Regions from separate parts of the Homo sapiens genome. Here region 2 is linked to region 1. The links come from fine-mapping of genetic effects on gene expression. A gene starts in region 1. The other region holds a variant in brackets. All regions are shown on one strand. Distances are from middle to middle.

Region 1 (9,359 bases):
AAAAAGGTAAGAATAGTTGTATACAGGGCTGGTATTCTTAATTTTCATTTAAATAAAATGGCTAGTAGCTCTATTATCAGGCAGTATTCTAAGGACTTTACATATATTAACTCATTTACTCCTCACAAAAACCCTGTGAAGTAGATACTATGATTTATCCCCATTTGGCAGGAAAAACTAATTGGGTTAAAGTAACCTGTCCAAGGTCACACTGCTACTAGAAGGTGAATTTAAACTCAGGCAATCTGGCTCTTGAATTCTTGCTGTTAAATATTATACTATATGGCCTCTCAATTCACATACTTCTTCATAATTTTTTTTTTTTTTTTTGAGACGGAGTCTTGCTCTGTCACCCAGGTTGGAGTGCAATGATGTGATGACAGCTCACTAAAACTTCAAACTGCTAGACTCAAGTGATCCTCCTGCCTCAGCCTCCTGAGCAGCTGGGATTACAAGTGAGCAGCACCACACTACTCAGCTTTTTTTTTTTTGTAGAGATAGGTCTCACCATGTTGCCAAGGCTGGTCTCCAACTCTTGGCCTCATGCAATCCTCCTGCCTCAGCCTCCCAAAATGTTGGGATTACAGGCACGAGCCACCACACCTGGCCCCCGTATGTTATTTTTAATGGCAGAAGAAGAAACATTTTGTAAGGCTATATTATGTCATGATCTCTGTTCTACAGGTACCTTTGATATTCTCATCCACAACCCAAACTCTGCTTCTCCTCTTATGTTTCTTACTTAAGTTCATCATTCACCCAGTTGACCAAGTGAAAAAATGCAGACACCCTGGAACCTTTCTCCCTCACTCCTCATATCCATTGAGGCTGGTTAATTTCTGCCTCAAAACCAACTCTTGGGCCGGGAACTGTAGCTCACCCCTGTAACCCCAGCACTTTAAGAGGCTGAGGTGGGTGGATCACTTAAGCCCAGGAATTCGAGAACAGCCTGGATAACATGGGAGACCCTTACTAAAAATACAAAAAATTAGCCAGGCCTGGTGCCATGCACCTGTGGTCCCAGCTACTCGGGAGGCTGAGGTGGGAGGATCACCTGAGCCCGGGAAGCCAAGGCTGCAGTGAGCAGTGATGGTGCCACTGCACTCCAGCCTGGATGACGGGAGACAGGAGTGAGAACCTGTGTCAAACAAATTCCCGTTAGCAAGGTGACTGCCCAAAAGGCTCTTAACACAGTCCCCTGTACCCAGATTCTTGTGCTCTCTCTTGTCCTGTCTAGCCATTAATGCCCTCCTTCTAAAAGAAAATCCACATCAATCAACTGCTTTACGTCCTTTACTGACTTTCCATATCAAGTCCAAATGTCTCAATGTGACACTGAGATCCCCTCACAATCTGGCTGTTTCACCTGCCCCTCTACTACTACTTTCCCACATACATTCTAAGCTCCAGAGTTGGGAGTATTCCATGTTTTACTCCTGTGTTGCCTCTTCGCATTTCCCATCTAGCAAACTCCCATTCAATCCCTTATATTCAGTTTGAAGTTTTTTGAAGCTTCCCCCTCTTCCCCATGCTCAAGTCCAGCCCTTTTTATGGTCTCAGAGAACTTTATTTTAGGATTAATCACACACTTGGTTGTAAGGTTTGTTACCTTTTTTTTTTTCTGAGATAGAGTCTCGCTCTGTCGCCTGCAATCTCTGCCCCCTGGGTTTAATCGATTCTCCTGCCTCAGCCTCCTGAGTAGCTGGGACTACAGGCACATGCCACCACACCCAGCTAATTTTTGTATTTTGAGTAGAGATGGGGTTTCACCATGTTGACCAGGATGGTCTCCATCCGTGACCTTGTGATCCGCCCGCCTAGGCCTCCCAAAGTGATGGGACTACCAGCATGAGCCACCGTGCCCGGCCGTTTGTTTCTTTTTAAGGTAAGAACTCTGGAAGTCCTCAGAGCCTAGACAGTGGCTGATACATAATAATTCTCAGTGTTTATTGAAAAATGACTGAATTCAATTACAGAGCATAAGCTACATGCAAGGACTGTATTATGTACATTATGCTGTGCCTAATAATTCATGATGGGCATTAAAGCTCTGAAAACTTTATGATGTGGTCTCTGAACTAGAAAAAGAGGATTCAGAGATGAGGCACCATGTGTTTGCTTAGATAAATTCAATTTATTCAACAAACATTTATTGAGCAGTGTGAATGAGGTAGTGAATAAGAGGTAAAGTTGTTGGACTTATTATAATTCTAGGGATATGTATATATTTTCTTTACTTATCCATTAAACAACTATGTCTGTTACCAGCAACTTAGAGTATTTTGTGGTTGGGCGCAGTGGCTCACACCTGTAATCCTAGCACTTTGGGAGGCCGTGGCGGGCAGATCACTTGAGGTCAGGAGTTTGAGACCAGCCTGGCCAACATGGTGAAACCCCGTGTCTACTAAAAATACAAAAATTGGCTAGGTGTGGTAGCATGCGCCTGTAATCCCAGCTACTCGGAAGGCTGAGGCATGAGAATCACTTGAACCCAGGAGGTGGAGGTTGCAGTGAGCTGAGATTGTACCACTGCACTCCAGCCTGGGCGACAGAGCAAGACTCTATCTCAAAAAAACAAAAAAAAGAAAGAAAAAAGAAAAGAAATTCACATATTTCTGATTGTCCTCTTTGCAGGATGGAGAAAAAGGCTGGGTAGACAACAAAGGTGAATGTAACTATCTTAGCTTTATGTTGCTATAACAGAATAGCTGAGTCTGGGTAATTTATAAAGAAAATAAATGTATTTCTCAGAGTTCTGGAGGCTGGGAAGCCCAAGGCTGAGAGGGCTGATTCTTTCAAGGGCCTTCTTGCTACCCATGGGTCACCCCATGGCAGAAGATGGAAGGGCAACAGATCAAGAGAGCAGGCAAGCAAGAGAGGGCTGAACTAACCCACTCTCTCAACAACCAAGCCACTCTCAGGATAACAATCTAATCTCTGAGGATGGAGCCCTCATGGTCTAATCATTTCTTATGGGTCCCACCTCTTAATGCGATTAAAATAGCAAATAAATGTCAACATAAGTTTTAGAGGGGGACATTCAAACCATAGTAATAATGAATTCAATTTTCTATTTTTCAAAGCAATGTTCTTTTGCATTATTTAGACTTATAGAAATGGGCATTGCAAAAATTAATTCAGTGCCAGGTTGAAAATGCAGTCTACATTTTTTTTTTTTTTTGGGAGAGTCTTGCTCTGTGGTCCAGGCTAGAGTGCAGTGGTGCGATCTTGGCTCACTGCAACCTCCAGCTCCAGGGCCCAAGTGATCCTCCCACCTCAGCCTCCCCAGGAGCTGGGACTACAGGCATGCACCACCATGCCTGGCTAATTTTTTTATTTTTTGTAGAGATGAGGTTTCACCATGTTGCCCAGGCTGGTCTCAAAATCGTTCAACACAGCAATACTCCTGCCTCAGCTTCCCCAAGTGCTGGGATTACAGGTGTGAGCCACCATGCCTGGCCTGCAGTCTACTTTTTTTTCTTTTCTTTTCTTTTTTTTTTTTTTTTGATACAGAGTCTTGATCTGTTGCCCAGGCTGGAGTTCAGTGGCATGATCTCGGCTCACTGCAACCTCCGCCTCCTGGGTTCAAGCAATTCTGCCTCAGCCTCCTGAGTAGCTGGGACTACAGGCAACTGACACCATGCCCGGCTAATTTTTGTATTTTTAGTAGAGATGGGGTTTCACCATATTGGCCAGGCTGGTCTTGAACTCCTGACCTCAAGTGATCCGCCCGCCTCGGCTTCCCCAAGTGCTGGAATTACAGGTGTGAGCCACCGTACCCTGCCTGCAGTCTACTTTTCAATCACATAAATCAGATCCCACAATGCTTCTGCACAGTATCTTTTAACTGCATCCCATCATATTTAGAAAAAGGCACAAGTCTTTCACCATGGTCCACAAGGCCCTACATGATCTGGCCCTGCTTATCGCTCTCCTTTGCTCACTCCATCCCAAACACATGGAACTTCCTGCTCTTCGCTGAACACACCAAGCTCATTTCTGCTTAAAGGCATTTGCAGTGCTATTCCCTCCTTCTGACACTCACTTCTCCCTGATTTCTGGTTTACTCCCTCACTTCATTTAAGTCTCTGTTCAAACGCCATCTCCTCAGAGAGGACTTTCACAACCGCCCTATTTAAAACTGAAGTCCCAAAGAAGGCGGATCACTTGAGGTCAGGAGTTAGAGATCAGCCTGGCCAACATGGCAAAACCCTGTCTCTACTAAAAATACAAAAATAATTAGCTAGGGGTGGTGGCGCAACTGTAATCCCTATTACTCCAGAGGCTGAGGCAGGAGAATTGCTTCAATCTGGGAAGTGGAGGTTGCAGTGAGCCGAGATCGTGCCACTGCACTCCAGCCTGGGTGACAGAGTGAGACCCTGTCTCAAAAAAAAAAATGATAAATAATAAAATAAAACTGAAGTCCCATCCCCTATTCTTTTACTCTGATTTACTTTCCTGTATTCTTTAACACTGCCTCTTAATAGTTATATATTGTTTATCACCTACCCACTAGAATGGGGATGTTCGTATCTTTTTCACTGTAATTTGCAATATTCACCAGCACCTAGAACGGTGCCTCACAATTCACCAGCACCTAGCACACAGCAGCCTCACAATAAATATATATTAAATACATGAATTTCATTCTCACCAGTCATTCAATTCCTATGACCTTGAGTAATTCGTTGAGCAAACACCCAAGCTCTGACTCTTAAATAAAAGCAATAAAACAAAGTTTTGTCCTTGCCATCAAATTCTATATATCCGGAGGCCAAGAACTATAGCAGCTTTTCCTATGGATTTAGGGCCGGAAAACTCTAGCTCCTCCAGACAGAACTTGTAGCAACCTGAATCATGAAATTAAGGGGTAGTAAACAGTCTCAGCTGTAAAAACGTTCAAAACAAGACCACATCTAAATGCCACAATCAGGTTTTAAAGGCCAGCTCTCTACCCTCCAATAACTGGTATTTACCAACACCCCCAAATTATGACTCCTTTGGGTTTTTAACCCTTTTTCTGTGCTACGGATCCTCTGTCAGTCTGGTGAAAACTAGACCTGTCTTGAGACTAGTGCTTTTAAATGCATAAAACAAACAAAAACAGCTATGAAAGAAACCCACTCTACATTACAGGACCGCAGATGCAAAAGCCCCTCTGCTCTATTTGCCACAGTGAAAAAAGATGAGAAAATGTGGAAGGCCATAGAAGGATCCCAGGGAACTGAATCCCGAGGTCCAATTTACTCTCAGTGGCAGCAGGGAGACCTGGGGCTGGGACAAGCCAGCCCTAGGGGGCGTGTCTGAGGACGCGGAGGGAGGAGACGCGGGCCCGGGTCTGGGAGGAAGGTGGGAGAATCTTCCTTCCAAAGCGCGCAGGGCTGCGCTCCCCACGGCGTGGCCCACCCCCGCCTCACCGGTCCCCGCCGTCCCCAGCAGCCGCTCGGGCACCCCTTGTAGGTCTTCATGGAGGCCGCGGAAGATCTCGTGCAGCTTCTCGAAATGCTCCGAGGAGGCGGCGGAGGAGGCCATGGCGCAGGCCGCGCTGGAGCAGCGGCCACCGAGATTCGGGGCCCTGGGCCCTTTCCTAGCCCGGCGGTCAGCCGCCCAGCCCAGTGGCCATAACGGCGACCGCCGCACCACCGCCGCCCAGGACGAGGCTCTTCCGGAGCCGCGGCAGGGTCCTCTCGAGCCGGAACGCCCACCTTCTCCAGCCAGTGATTGCTGGAGCGCCGGCGCGAAAGCCTGACGAGAAGTCGGGAGACTGCGCGGCCTAGGCGACTCCTGAGGGAGCGGTGCCGCGCCGGGGCGATCGGCAGTCGCGGAACCCGAGAAGTGCCGGGTCCGGGTTGGGGAAAGGCCGCAGCGAAAGGGGCCTAGGGGACCTGCGGGACTGGCAGCGCGGCCGCCTTCCTCCCGGGCCCCGCCGGCCGGCGAGGGGCGGGCGCTGCAGTGCACGCCGGGGGATGTAGTTTGGCTCGGACGAGAGCGTCTCGTCCCGGGGTCGCGCGTTGCTCCGGGTGCCAGGTTCAGCCCGCGCGGCGACAGCGGGCTTCGGCCCGATTTGATGTATGTTTGCGTCTAGACGTCGTCCTCACTGTCATCGCGCTTTGCTTTGCCACCCTGACCCGAATTCCTCGTTTCGCGTCTTGACTGTTAGCTTTCGGCCCTGGAAAGATAGCCGGGCCAGGGGCTCTGCCTGCCGTCGGGAGGTGGAGCACTTTTCTTGGAAGGCCCAGCGGCTCCCCAAGCTTTCAGAAGTGGAACCCGGCCGGGCGAGTGGCTCGCGCCTGTAATCCCAGTACTTTGGGAGGCCGAGGTGGGAGGATTGCTTGAACCCAGTAGTTCGAGACCAGCCTGGGCACAATAGCGAGAGCTCTACCAGAAACCCAAAATAAGAACCGGGCATGGTGGCGCGCACTTTTGGCCCCAGCTACCCCCGGAGGCTGAGGTCCCACCACTGCACTCCAGCTTTGGGAGACCTTGCTCCCAAGTGGAGCGAGATCTTGTCTCCAAAAAAACAAAAAACCCAAAAACCAAAAATTCAAAAGTGGAACCCAGTTAGGATGACCTCGAAATACTCTAGCTGCTAGGCCCGAGTAATTCTCCTCGTGGAGACTAATTCTCCTCCTAGGCTGCCTCGTGCACTTGTTGACAACAGGTGTTTGTCAAGCGTAGGCATTGCGAGGGATCTGGGCATGTTGGTGAATAAAACATTTAATCTCTGCTCCAGGGGAATTTATAATCTGGTGTGGAAGGTGGGCCTGGCTTCATTAGGTCTCATCTGCCACTAAGTGTCACGTGTTAAAAATTACAAGGTCCCTTCTTGCACTCCATGGGTATAAATTCCTGTCTTCACGTCGGGCATGGTGGCTCACGCGTCATCCCAGCACTTTGGGAGGCCGAGGCGGGCGGATCACTTCAGGTCAAGAGTTCAAGACCAGCCTGGCCAACATGGTGAAACCCCCGTCTCTGCTAAAAACACAAAAATTAGCCAAGCGTGGTGGTGGGCGCCTGTAACCCCAGCTACTCGGGAGGCTGAGGCAGGAGAATCGCCTGAACCCGGGAGGCAGTGGTTGCAGTGAGCTGAGATCGTGCCACCACACTCCAGCCTGGGTGACAGAGAAGACCCTATCTCAAAAAATTAAAATAAATTATTATTTTCACCGATTTCACGGTTTGCTCAAGGTGTCTGTTCTCAAATGTTTGCTTGGGAGTTCAATTTTAAACTGCCTACAAATATTAAAAGATGTATGACTGCTCAGGAGAAAATGCTTTGCTAATTTGTATCTCCTGGGCCCTCATTTTTATTAGATCAAGTTCATTGGCTGTTGATTCAACACACTTTGGTTAAGCTCTTAATATGCACTGAGCATAGACATGACCAAGTCTGAGGATAGTCAGTATACTGTGTAAGTCCCACAGCACAATGCTGGGACTTGTCACAGTACAGAAATAAGGGGCAGGTGCAAAAAAAGGATCAATAGCCTGGGGCCGGGTGCTGCGGCTCACACCTGTACCCCAGCACTTTGGGAGGCCAAGGTGGGAGGATCGCTTGAGCCCAGAGTTTGAGGCCAGCCTGGGCAACAAAGCAAGACGCTGTCTCTAATTAAAAAGAAAGGAAAAAAAAATGGCCCGGGATGATCAAGAAATGTGGAAAAAGTGTCTGTGAAGAGTGTCAAAAAAGGTTAAGTAGGAAATGGTGAATGAACAATTAGATTATCACACAACCTAAATTAATAGCATGTGGATTGAGATTACACTGTAGCTAGACTCTGGAACAAATTATTCTTTAGAATGAGAAATCATTGCACAACCATAATAATGAACAGTGTTTTCTTCTTTTGACTGTAATCAAACTTTTAATTCTTAGTTTTTATTCTGGTAAATGAAAACAAAAAATAATCAAAAAGAATTTTTATTTGTCATTGACAGTTCAATATAAATTAAGTAAAACATTAATTCATTTATTCTGCACTATTATCAGAATTTTTCTAATTTTTCCGTAAAATGACCATTTCTAAACATATAGCTTAATGGTCAAAACAAGTGCAATAAAAGATTAATTTACAAGTATCAGAAGTGAAGACTGTGGTCCTATAACTCTTTCCCCCACCAAAGTTAAAATATAATTGTCATTCCAGGAAATCAAAATCTTTTAGAATAGCACACTCCAAACAAGTGATGGGAACACTACTAATTCCTTAGACTTCCTTTGGCAGCATTACTTTTGATAAGAAGTCTCCAAATAAAATACAAAATTTTGGCACAGACATTTTAATCTTGTCAAGACAATGTAAGGAAATGCCCCAAAATATTATTAAATTGACCATAATTACCAATATCAGTCCCTAAGATAATTTTTCTGAATGAAGAATTGTTTTTTTTGTTTGTTTGTTTTTAGGATTTTTTTTTTTTTTTTTTTTTTTTTTTTTGCCACACTGGTTTTTGTTAAGACCTCATCAGTCCTGGGTGCTTGCCCTCAATTCCTCCATAGCTATGTTAGCATATTTAATATCTTTTGCTATTAATCCTTAACTAGTTAATCCTTAAAGGGCTAGTTAATCCTTAACTAGTCCCTTCATTTTGTGCATTATCTTCCAGTATTCTCCTTCTCTTTTTTTACTTCTTCCCTGCTACCCATGTGCTCTTGGTGGGTAGTTACCAACATATACAGAATCTGCTTCCCTTTGCAGCATTTCATTTGCATAAAGACTGGATGGCACTGGTTTGCTCCATCTCTGATTATTGTGGCTGTTTTGAACTTTGTGAAAATACTCCCTTGGCACACATAAACAGGAAGACACACAAAGATATACACAATTTTTAGTAGAGGTGGGGTTTCACCATGTTGGCCAGGCTGGTCTTGAACTACTGACCTCCGGTGATCCACCATGCCTGGGCAAGCCCTGCTCCTGAGCCAGTCTTTGTTATTCATGTTAAGCTGAGGTTGCAGTGTGGCCCTCTTGAAGTGAAGACTGGTTGGTTGGGAGGAACTGAATTGTGAACAAAGAAGCTAGTTCAAATTTGCATAAATCATCCCTGCTATAGCTTAGATTCTCCTAGGTAGTAGTTTCTTTCAGAAGGAAAATGAGCTGTGCAGGTCATATGAGGGTCTTCTTATCCTATTATGATATCTCTAGTAACTCTGGCAGTAACAGAAGCAAAGTAAATCTGGACATGACAGACATTTAGACGAATCTGGCAGTACACTGAGTTTTAACTGGACACCAAGCAGGCAAGGCTGGAAGGTTTTGCTCTCTTTGTGCTAAAGGTTTTGAAAACCTTGAAGGAGAATCATTTTGACAAGAAGTACTGTGTAGTCTGCTGCAGTCTTCTCTTGGGTCCAACTGGCACTG
Region 2 (9,359 bases), 49 kb after region 1:
GTGGGTAGAGGCCAGGGATGCTGGTAAAAATCCTCCTTTACTCGGAACAGCCACTCACAGGAAAGAATTATAAGGCTCAAAATGTCAATAGGCTGGGCGTGGTGGCTCACACCTATAATCCCAGCACTTTGAGAGACCAAGGTGGAAGGATCACACGAGCCTAGGAATTCACGACCAGCATGGGCAACACAGTGAGACCCTGTCTCTATTTTTTTTTAAATGTCAATAGTGCCTGCTGTGAATTAAGAGTAAGGGTTGCTGATCCCTTGAAAAATCAACGGAAGTTACATACTAGCAGCAAAAATTCTTTTTCTTTGAGAAAGACAGTGTGTTTATTTTAGCTTTTAAAATCAAGAAAAAGGAACAACAAGTCATTATTATTGGTTAAAACAAATACAAAAAAATGTGCTTCCATTTTGGTTTGCTGTTTGGGGTCAGGGCATGGGAAGAGGCAGCAAGTTCCTCATGGCTGGAAAAGGAAATAACTGTGGTGCTGTACGGGCTCCTTAGGGAAGTTGGGCAGGGCTTGCAGTAGAAAGATGGAATCTGTCATCTCCCACCTGTCTCATCTGGCTTCCAAAATATGTGATTTGAAGAATAGGGAAGAGGAGAAGGAGGAAGGGAGGAAGAGAAAGAGAAGTTTACAGTTTTCCCTCTCACTCTATTTTGTAAGAGGCTCCATTCTTAGTAGGGTATCCAGGACAGGGATAACCAGGAGACCAGTACAGTATGAGCTGCTAGATGATTTATGACCAAAGGTCAAATCAGCAAGCAGCTTCCCAGCTCTGCTTCATAGCATGTGATCTCCACACATCCCTGCCTCAGTGTTAGCCCTGGGAGGATGGCTGATCCGGGAACCTGACCTGTGATTGATTCACTCACGGTGAGGCTAGAAGAGGATCCTTCTCAAAGGTGTTGCAAGTGATGAGTGCTCTGTCATCACTGAACTTCAGGCCTATTCCTACACTGGTTCCTCTGGTGTTTTCATCTCTTTCTCTCTGTGACTTATGCCTATATCTGTCCCAGATTGAAAATCCCTAAAGAGCAGGTATCCTATTGGTCCCTGGCTTTTTTGATGTTGATTACAATGATGAAGTGGGTGATGATTATGGCTTTGCTTATGTGCCAAAGCATGTTTAAGAATGTCTCGATACCAGTTTGAGAAATAGCTTTATTTGTGATACTGCAATGATTAATTTAACAAAGATAAACATGTAAGTTGTTGCAAAATGATACGGTTTTCAACAGAAATTAAGGCCATTGGGGCAGAGATAAATTGATAAAAGTTTATTGGAAGCCAAATGTGAGAATTTATCCAGTAAGATACACCAACAAAGTTGGGCATGTTCCAACATCTGTTACAAGTTGGAATGCTTTTATAAGACTGTTTAGGAGAAGGAAGGGGGACTCCTCATATCGGAGTTATCCTTTTCCATTGGAGGGTACAATACAGAGGTTACAATCATTGCCTATGGATGACAGCGTACAGGCTAAAATGTTTTATGCACAAGACAATCAGTAAAAACAAATCAGCAGAGCTTTATGATTTAGAAAGAAAACAATGTCCCTTTCAATGTCAGTATTAATCAGTAACCTGACAATTAATAAATACATAGTTTGAGGAACTCGCAATAGAATTTGAGTGCCTCACGATAAGATTCTTTACTCAGAGACAGGATGTAAGCCATCAGTCTTAAGACCTTTTCCAAGCAGTTCATTTGGAAGCCTGTGAAATGTGTCCTGCAGGTTATCAGGGTCTTTTTGCTGAAAAGTTTATTTATTTTTTCTTTTCTTTTTTTTAGAGACAGGGTCTTGCTCTGTTGCCCAGGCTGGAGTGTAGTGGCATGATCATGGCTCAATGCAGCCTCAACCTCCTGGGCTCAAGTGATCCTCCTGCCTCAGCCTCCCAAGTAGCTGGGACCACAGGTGTGTGCCACCAGGCCAGCTAATTTTTAGTTTTCCTTTTTGTAGAGACGGGGTCTCACTATGTTGCCCAGGTTGGTCTTGAACTTCTGGTCTCACGTGATCCTCCTGCCTCGGTTTCCCAAAGTGCAGGAATTACAGATGTAAGCCACAGTGCCCAACCAAAATTTAATGTTTATTTACTTAAGTTTTTTATTTATTCTGTTTCTTAATTATTTATTCTTTTTTTACAGCTGTATACTATCTATTATGTGGCTTTACTATTGATGGACATTTAGGAGGTTTCCAAACTTCTGCTATAATATACAATGCTATAATGGTAACCTTATAAATACATGGAAGTCGAATGTTTAGGTGAATGAGTGCATGCACAGCTTTACTAGACATTACAACACTTCTCTCTATGGAGGCTTTAACAATGGACTCTCCCACGAGCAATGCATCAGCATTATTTCTTCACATGCTTGCCAGTGGATCATACTACAATCTTTTTGACCTTTGGCAATCTGATAAGTGAAAAGTGGCTCCCAGTATAATTTTAATTTGCATCTCTCATATGAGTGAGGGTGAAGAGCCACTTGTATTTCCTTTTTTGTAAACTGCTATTTCAATTGGGTTGTTATTCCTTTTCTTACTGATTTGTAAGAGTTCTTTATCTACTAAATCAATTAGTCTCTTGTCTTCAAAGCCTGTTATGAATATTTCCCCCCAGTTTCTCATTTATCTTGCCTTGTGTATGATGGTTTTTGTCATGCTCATTTTTTAAGTTTTAGTTTTCAGTTTCCTGTCTTACTAGAAAGGTCTTACCACTCTAAAAATGTGTCCAGTGGTTCTTCTTAATACTTCAGTGGTTTCATTTCTCATACTTACGTCTTTGAGGTATTCGAATTTTGGAAGGATCAAGTTTGCTTTTTCCCAGCTGGATACCTAGGTGCCACAATACTTTGTTAATTAAATCATCTGTCCCTTCCACTGATTTGAAATGGCATTTTCATCATATCTAAATGCCCATGTGTATTTGGGTCTATTTCTTGCCTTTCCATTCTGTTCTATTGATTTGTCTGCCTATTCACCTACCTGTACTTAGTAGTATGGTTTAGCATTTTGGTACAACTTATCAATGATATGATGGTGGCCTTTGGATTATAATATTTAACATTTTATTTTAGCAAAGTGTTTGTGTATTTTCATAATTCTAGATGCCTTATGGTCCTTCTAATATCTTCTCTCCAGAGGACTGTATGCTGTTCTTAAGGACTCTCTGCTTCCTGGACAAGCTCAAGCTAAGGTGAGTACCATCTTCTTAAATGCAAGGATCTTAGATTTGAGTCAAGAAGTGTCTGCTGGGAATGATCTGATCACTCCTTGTTCTGTTGGTCAGGTCCATGGGTTTCCCCAGGGGCAGAAACTGTGTCTTCCTAGTATGTTGCACAATTCCTGGTGCAGAGAAACACTCAGTAAATGTGTGTTGAGGATGAACTGATGAATGAGGACATGAACACCTGCCTGCCACAGAAGTCTTTCATGCATGGGTGTTCCTGGAGGCTCCTCTGGCTTCACAGGAAGGGACAGAACTGGGAAATTATTCCTGGGGTCCTGTCCCAGCTCCTTGTCTATTCTTCTGTCCAAGAGAGGAACACAGAGCGAGGAAGGGCAATGAATCCCACTTACCCTTCTCCCATCTCACACACATCCAGAGGCACGATCCTAGCTCACTTCAACCTTGACCTCTGAGCTCAAGTGATCCTCCCTACTCAGCCTCCCGAGTAGCTAGGATTACAGGCACGCACCACCACACCCAGATAATTTTTTGTAGAGACAGGGTCTCACTAAGTTGCCTAAGCTCAGTCTTGAACTTCTGGCCTCAAGGGATCCCCCTACCTTGGGCTCTTTACCAGCATTTTCTTGTATTTCTCCTCATCTTCAATAGCATTCAACTGAAACATCACCCACGTTCATCATCTCTCCCTTTTCTACACCATGGCCTTGAGTAAAGCAAGTGAGATAGCAAGGGAGATACGAATCAGAACAGCTAACCATAACAGCTGACTCTTATATACTGTTTAGCATATGCCAGTTTCGTTTTCCACCAATGTAATAATTGAACACTTAGAACAAGTGGGGATATATATATATATATATATATATATGTATAACACATATATATATAAAACCATATATTATATATATAATCATACCCATTGTACAAGTGAGAAAACTGAGTTAACAGAGAGGTTTAGTAACTTGCCCAGGGCCGTGGAGCTTTTAAATAGATTCAGCGCTAGAGTCCATGCACTTAAACACCATACCTTTCCTTGTAATATGCATGTGCGTGTGTTAACTTCATTGAAGTAAAATATAAAATGCAGAAAAGTGCACAAGTCGAAAGCATACGACTCAGCAGATTTTCATAAAGTGAGCACACCCATGTACTAGCACCCAGATGAAAGAGCAGAGCACTCTCAGCCCTCCAGGAGTTCCAGTCATCTCCCTCCCCAGTCACTGCCCCCTCCTCCCTAAGGTTAACTGCTCTTCTGACGTCTCTCTCCATTCTTCTGGGAGTTTCCTTCCCATCCTATTTTAATCCACTCATATTTTAAGCATCATGGGGTTTGTGGCTAAAGTTAGAAATATTCTATATATTCCATCTTGCAGTAGAGGTGGCAGTGGTTGGGAGAACACATTTCCTAGAGAAGAGAAACAATTGAGGATGGGGGGTTTAGGGGGTACTTGCTTTAGTTTCCCCACATTCTCTTTGCCAGTAAACCTAAGTAAGCTTCAAACCTTGACTCCATCCCCTCCCCACCAGGACTACATCTCCCAGCAGGCTGTGCTCTGACAGCTCTTGGATTTAAATAGGATTCTGGGCTCTGCTCAGAGTCAGGCTGCTGCTCAGCACCCAGGACGGAGAGGAGCAGAGAAGCAGCAGAAGCAGCCAAGAGCTGGAGCCAGACCAGGAACCTGAGCCAGAGCTGGGGTTGAAGCTGGAGCAGCAGCAAAAGCAACAGCAGCTACAGAAGTTGGAACGATGCTGGTCACCTTGGGACTGCTCACCTCCTTCTTCTCGTTCCTGTATATGGTAGCTCCATCCATCAGGTTTGTCTTAATTCAGCAACTCAAACAATCGTTTACAAAGACCTGCACTGGAAGCCGGTTCTCAGCTGCTGAAAGAAGAGAAAGGGAAGGAGGCTGACAGAGGAGAAAGTCAGGGCAGGAAAAGCAGGAAGGAAGGGGGTGTTGTGGATACCATGGTGGAAAACCAGAAGGAAGCATCTGCGGCCGGGCAGAGGTGGGGCTGAGTTCTGGCCCCACCTGAGCTCTGGGGAGAGTTCTACTGCCAGCGGAAGGCTGCATGGATGACTCTGTCAAGTAGCTCAACAAACACCTTAGGTGGGAGTCCTTGC[G/T]TTTTCATTTTATTCCTTTGGGTGTCTCTGAAGAACTCGGAGACTCTGTCCCTATTCAGGGTGGCCCTGCTGGCTTGTCATGCTGTTAAGTACCAGGTAGTTTGGGAAAGAAACAAACTCTTCTGCCTTTGAGACTACCCTCAATTAATGTTTTGGGATGGCTTTTTTGCTGTGGGATTTCTAGAGGTGTCAAATAAAAGTGTGTTCTGAGTGGAGAATTTTTAAATTTCTCTTTTTTAATTTTTGCTCTGTCACCCCAGGGTGGAGTGCATTGGTGTAGTCATAGGTCACTGCAGCCTTGAACTCTTGGGCTCAAGCAACCCTCCTGCCTCAGCCTCCCAAGTAGTTGGGAATATAGGCAGGTGCCACTACACCCAGCTACTTTTTAAATTTTTTGTGGAGATGGGGGTCTCACTATGTTGCCCAGGCTGGTCTCAAACTCCTGGGCTTAAGCGACCATCCCACGTTGGCCTCCCAAGATGTTGGGATTACAGGCATGAGCCACTGGGCTCAGCCTAAAAAATTTCTTATGATAAAGGAGGTTAAATGGACCTACCAAGGACAGTGTTATTCTAGGTTCTCCATAGAGATCTGGGTTCAAGTCCCACTTCTGCCACCACTATGTGACATGAACCTCCCTGAGCCTCAGTTTTCTCTACTGTAATGTGGAAATAATACTGGAGAAGTTGAGAGGATTAAAATAAATTACATATGGAAAGTGCCTAGACTAGTAATTGGCAGTCAGATGATGTGCAGGAAATGTTAGTTCTGCCCCTCCGTATTCTGTTTTAGGACCTGTGAAGTCAACTTCATGTAAAAGAGTGCTCTCTGCACAGAGGTCTGAACAAAGGAGGTTTTCTCTCTGTTTGCCATCGGCCAGAATGAAATCTCTAATACAATGGCTGAAAGCCTCGGAAATGACCCACTCCCTAAAACTGGAGAGGCAGCCTAAGATCAGTACCTGTGTATGCCATCCCCCAGAGTGCTAAGAGCAGTACCTGTGTGTGCCACCCCCCACAGAGTGCTGTTCATCAGTTACTCATGATGATGGTTACTGAATATTGACTCCGCTAATGTTTATCATGCATATGTTTTGAATGTAGGTTAGAGGGGAAAGCTTTCCTCTGGAACCTCTAGAGATAAGAGCTAGATGTATTTATTATCTAACAAGGAAAGTCTCCATTGGCCCTGACTCCAGCATTTACTCTGTTTGCTAATATGATTATTTGTGGCTTCTGGGCAAGTGATCTTCCCACCTGCACCGATAAACAGGCGACTACCTTGCCCCATGGAAAAATGTTGTCCTATGAAGGTTAGCTTTTATGAGTCTCCTGACTGCAACTTAAAGATACCCTTCTTTGAGGCTGGATAGAGTTTTTTTTTTTTTTTTTAACGTATCTTAGTGTGAGCTCGTGAAGGATGGTACGTGATGCTCTTGTTTCCCTTGCCGATAGGAAGTTCTTTGCTGGTGGAGTGTGTAGAACAAATGTGCAGCTTCCTGGCAAGGTAGTGGTGATCACTGGCGCCAACACGGGCATTGGCAAGGAGACGGCCAGAGAGCTCGCTAGCCGAGGTAAGTGTTTCCCCTTTAGTCTCCAAAGGGCCATGCCTCCCACCCTTCTTCCCACTGGGGCCTCTGTCCATATTGCTTTGTGTTTCCTCCTAGGCTTGGGGGCTCTGACTAGAAATTCAAGGAACCTGGGATTCAAGTCCAACTGTGACACCAACTTACACTGTGGCCTCCAATAAACTGCTTCTTTCCTATTCCCTCTCTATTAAATAAAATAAGGAAAACGATGTCTGTGTATAGCCAAGTCAGTTATTCTAAAAGGAGATACTAAGTGACATTAAATATCAGAATGTAAAACCTGGGAACCAGGTTCCCAGCCTGGGATTAAACTGACAGCAAGAAGACTGAACAGTACTACTGTGAAAAGCCCGAAGTGGCAATATGTTCACTCTACCGTTGAAGGATGGCTGGGAGAATGAATGCTCTGTCCCCCAGTCCCAAGCTCACTTACTATACCTCCTTTATAGCCTAGGATATGAACATACTGCTCTTTTTTTGTCTTGGACCCAGGAGCCCGAGTCTATATTGCCTGCAGAGATGTACTGAAGGGGGAGTCTGCTGCCAGTGAAATCCGAGTGGATACAAAGAACTCCCAGGTGCTGGTGCGGAAATTGGACCTATCCGACACCAAATCTATCCGAGCCTTTGCTGAGGGCTTTCTGGCAGGTGAGGTCCTGATGGGTAGGTAGAAAAGCAGGAAATTGGGTATGGGAGTGGCTGCTCCACCCTAGACCATCTATGGCCCTTACATCAGAACCATCATCCACCCCACTAGACAGGTTCTGCCACATGAACCAGCAGGACAGGGAATTGGCAAGAGGATGGTGGGTAGATAGACTGGGCAGGATCCTTATCATCTTTTCGCCTCAGCAATGGGAATGTCGGAGGTGTTAGCTCCCTGTCTGGGCTTGCACCTTGGCATCAAGGTGTGGCCACAATGCCACTCTCTTCTTTCATCCTGAGAATCAACCTTGTGTGGCCATAGGCATGAGATGAAGTTGTGCTGCTGGCAAGTTCTTCTGGATCTTGGAAAATGACCAGCTTCTACCACGGACTATGAAATCCATGAGGGACATCCTGGGACCATGTCTGGCTTGTGTTACCACTGGATTCCTAGTGCCCAGCAGAGTGCACCTGGCTCAGAGTCGGTAGTTAGTACACATTTGCTGAATAAATGAATGAACAATGTCCAGGAAGATATGAGTAACTAAAATTACTCATTAGAAACCCAGTGACAATGCTTATTGGATGTCACTGAGATAGGTCCAAATGAAGGATAGTTATTGAGTGCTGAGGCAATACCTTGTTTTAAAAGGAAGGGGCAGAGCAAGTGACTCCTATCAAAATGTTACCCCAACAAAGACAACTAATGAACAAAGGGAAAGGGCAATTATGCAGGTCTGTTACAGGCAGCTAGGGGACTCCTTGCTAACCATAGGATCTCTTTGGTTGTGCCCTATAGAGGAAAAGCAGCTCCATATTCTGATCAACAATGCGGGAGTAATGATGTGTCCATATTCCAAGACAGCTGATGGCTTTGAAACCCACCTGGGAGTCAACCACCTGGGTAAGTATCTTTGGGTGACTAAAAAATGAGGTACACCCACTATCTTTTCTTTAGGAAGATGACACTGTGTAAATGTGGAGAATGTCCAGGGGCCTTCATAGAGCCTAGGAATTCCAATAGACTAGACCCATTGGCTTGTTGTTCACTGTACCTCTCCTGATCAGTCTAAAAAAGTGAGATCTTCCTACCCATACCATTAAGAAGCCCCAAATTTCAGGAAATACCAGGGAGAAGAATGTCATTCTTGGATGGGGCAGTGGCAGTACAAGGCTTGCCAGGCAGGGCCAGACCTGGGGTTATGCAGGCATCTGGGCTTGGCTGGAGGGGTCACATCTACATGATGGCCAACCAAGCCATGGGTTGGTCCACGGAGGTAGGCAATCCTTGAGAACTTGAGTACGAGGCAGGGTGGGGTTCAGCGTTCAAGGCAAAGACTTTAGGGAGGAGAGCATGGAGCATGTTTTCTGATCCTAAGCAAATGTTATCTTCCCTGACTGTTCTATCCTTCTGCCTATACACAAGTGTACCTGGGTCCCTAGTTATGCGATCATGGCCAGAGTGGGAGTTGGAAGCCAGCAGGTGGGTCAAGGGCAGAGGTACAAAGTAATATAATTAAGTATGATTGCCTTACTTGTAGTCTAGCTCTGGCTCTTGCTTTGAGGAATCCACAAACTCAGACCAAACTGACCATTAGAGTTACTCATGGCATCAAAATTGGTTCACACCCAGAAGATAGTGAGCTAACACTGAAGTCCTCTTGGCTCCCACATGCTGAGCCTGGGCTGTCATTCCACTTTCAATCTTCCCTGCTGGCTCTCCTCACAGGCCACTTCCTCCTCACCTACCTGCTCCTGGAGCGGCTAAAGGTGTCTGCCCCTGCACGGGTGGTTAATGT

Direction of the effects. Positions count from the first base shown, and alleles are read on the strand shown. Sizes are in standard deviations (SD) of each study's normalised expression.
In carriers of allele T in region 2, the expression in transverse colon of the gene that starts at base 5,675 in region 1 tends to be higher than with G alone (small effect, 0.18 SD a copy in GTEx).

What was found.
Region 2: its variant is fine-mapped to the expression of VTI1B in transverse colon (GTEx, PIP 0.97).

What each region holds. Positions count from the first base shown.
Region 1 is chr14:67,668,958-67,678,316 of GRCh38, forward strand. VTI1B (vesicle transport through interaction with t-SNAREs 1B) reads right to left here and starts at 5,675. Exons shown (of 6, transcript NM_006370.3): 1 at 5,418-5,675. The coding sequence starts at 5,532. RDH11 (retinol dehydrogenase 11) reads right to left here. Exons shown (of 7, transcript NM_016026.4): 7 at 7,843-9,359. It also overlaps a transcript of GPHN not described here. RefSeq lists silencers at 5,350-5,459, 5,560-5,999.
Region 2 is chr14:67,717,692-67,727,050 of GRCh38, forward strand. It overlaps RDH12 (retinol dehydrogenase 12), which reads left to right. Exons shown (of 9, transcript NM_152443.3): 2 at 3,157-3,211; 3 at 4,733-5,019; 4 at 6,782-6,900; 5 at 7,408-7,563; 6 at 8,360-8,464; 7 at 9,290-9,359. The coding sequence starts at 4,952. It also overlaps a transcript of GPHN not described here. Among named protein-coding and RNA genes, the nearest start is that of RDH12, 20 kb to the left of the region's middle. The variant G/T (reference allele first, on the strand shown) is at 5,328.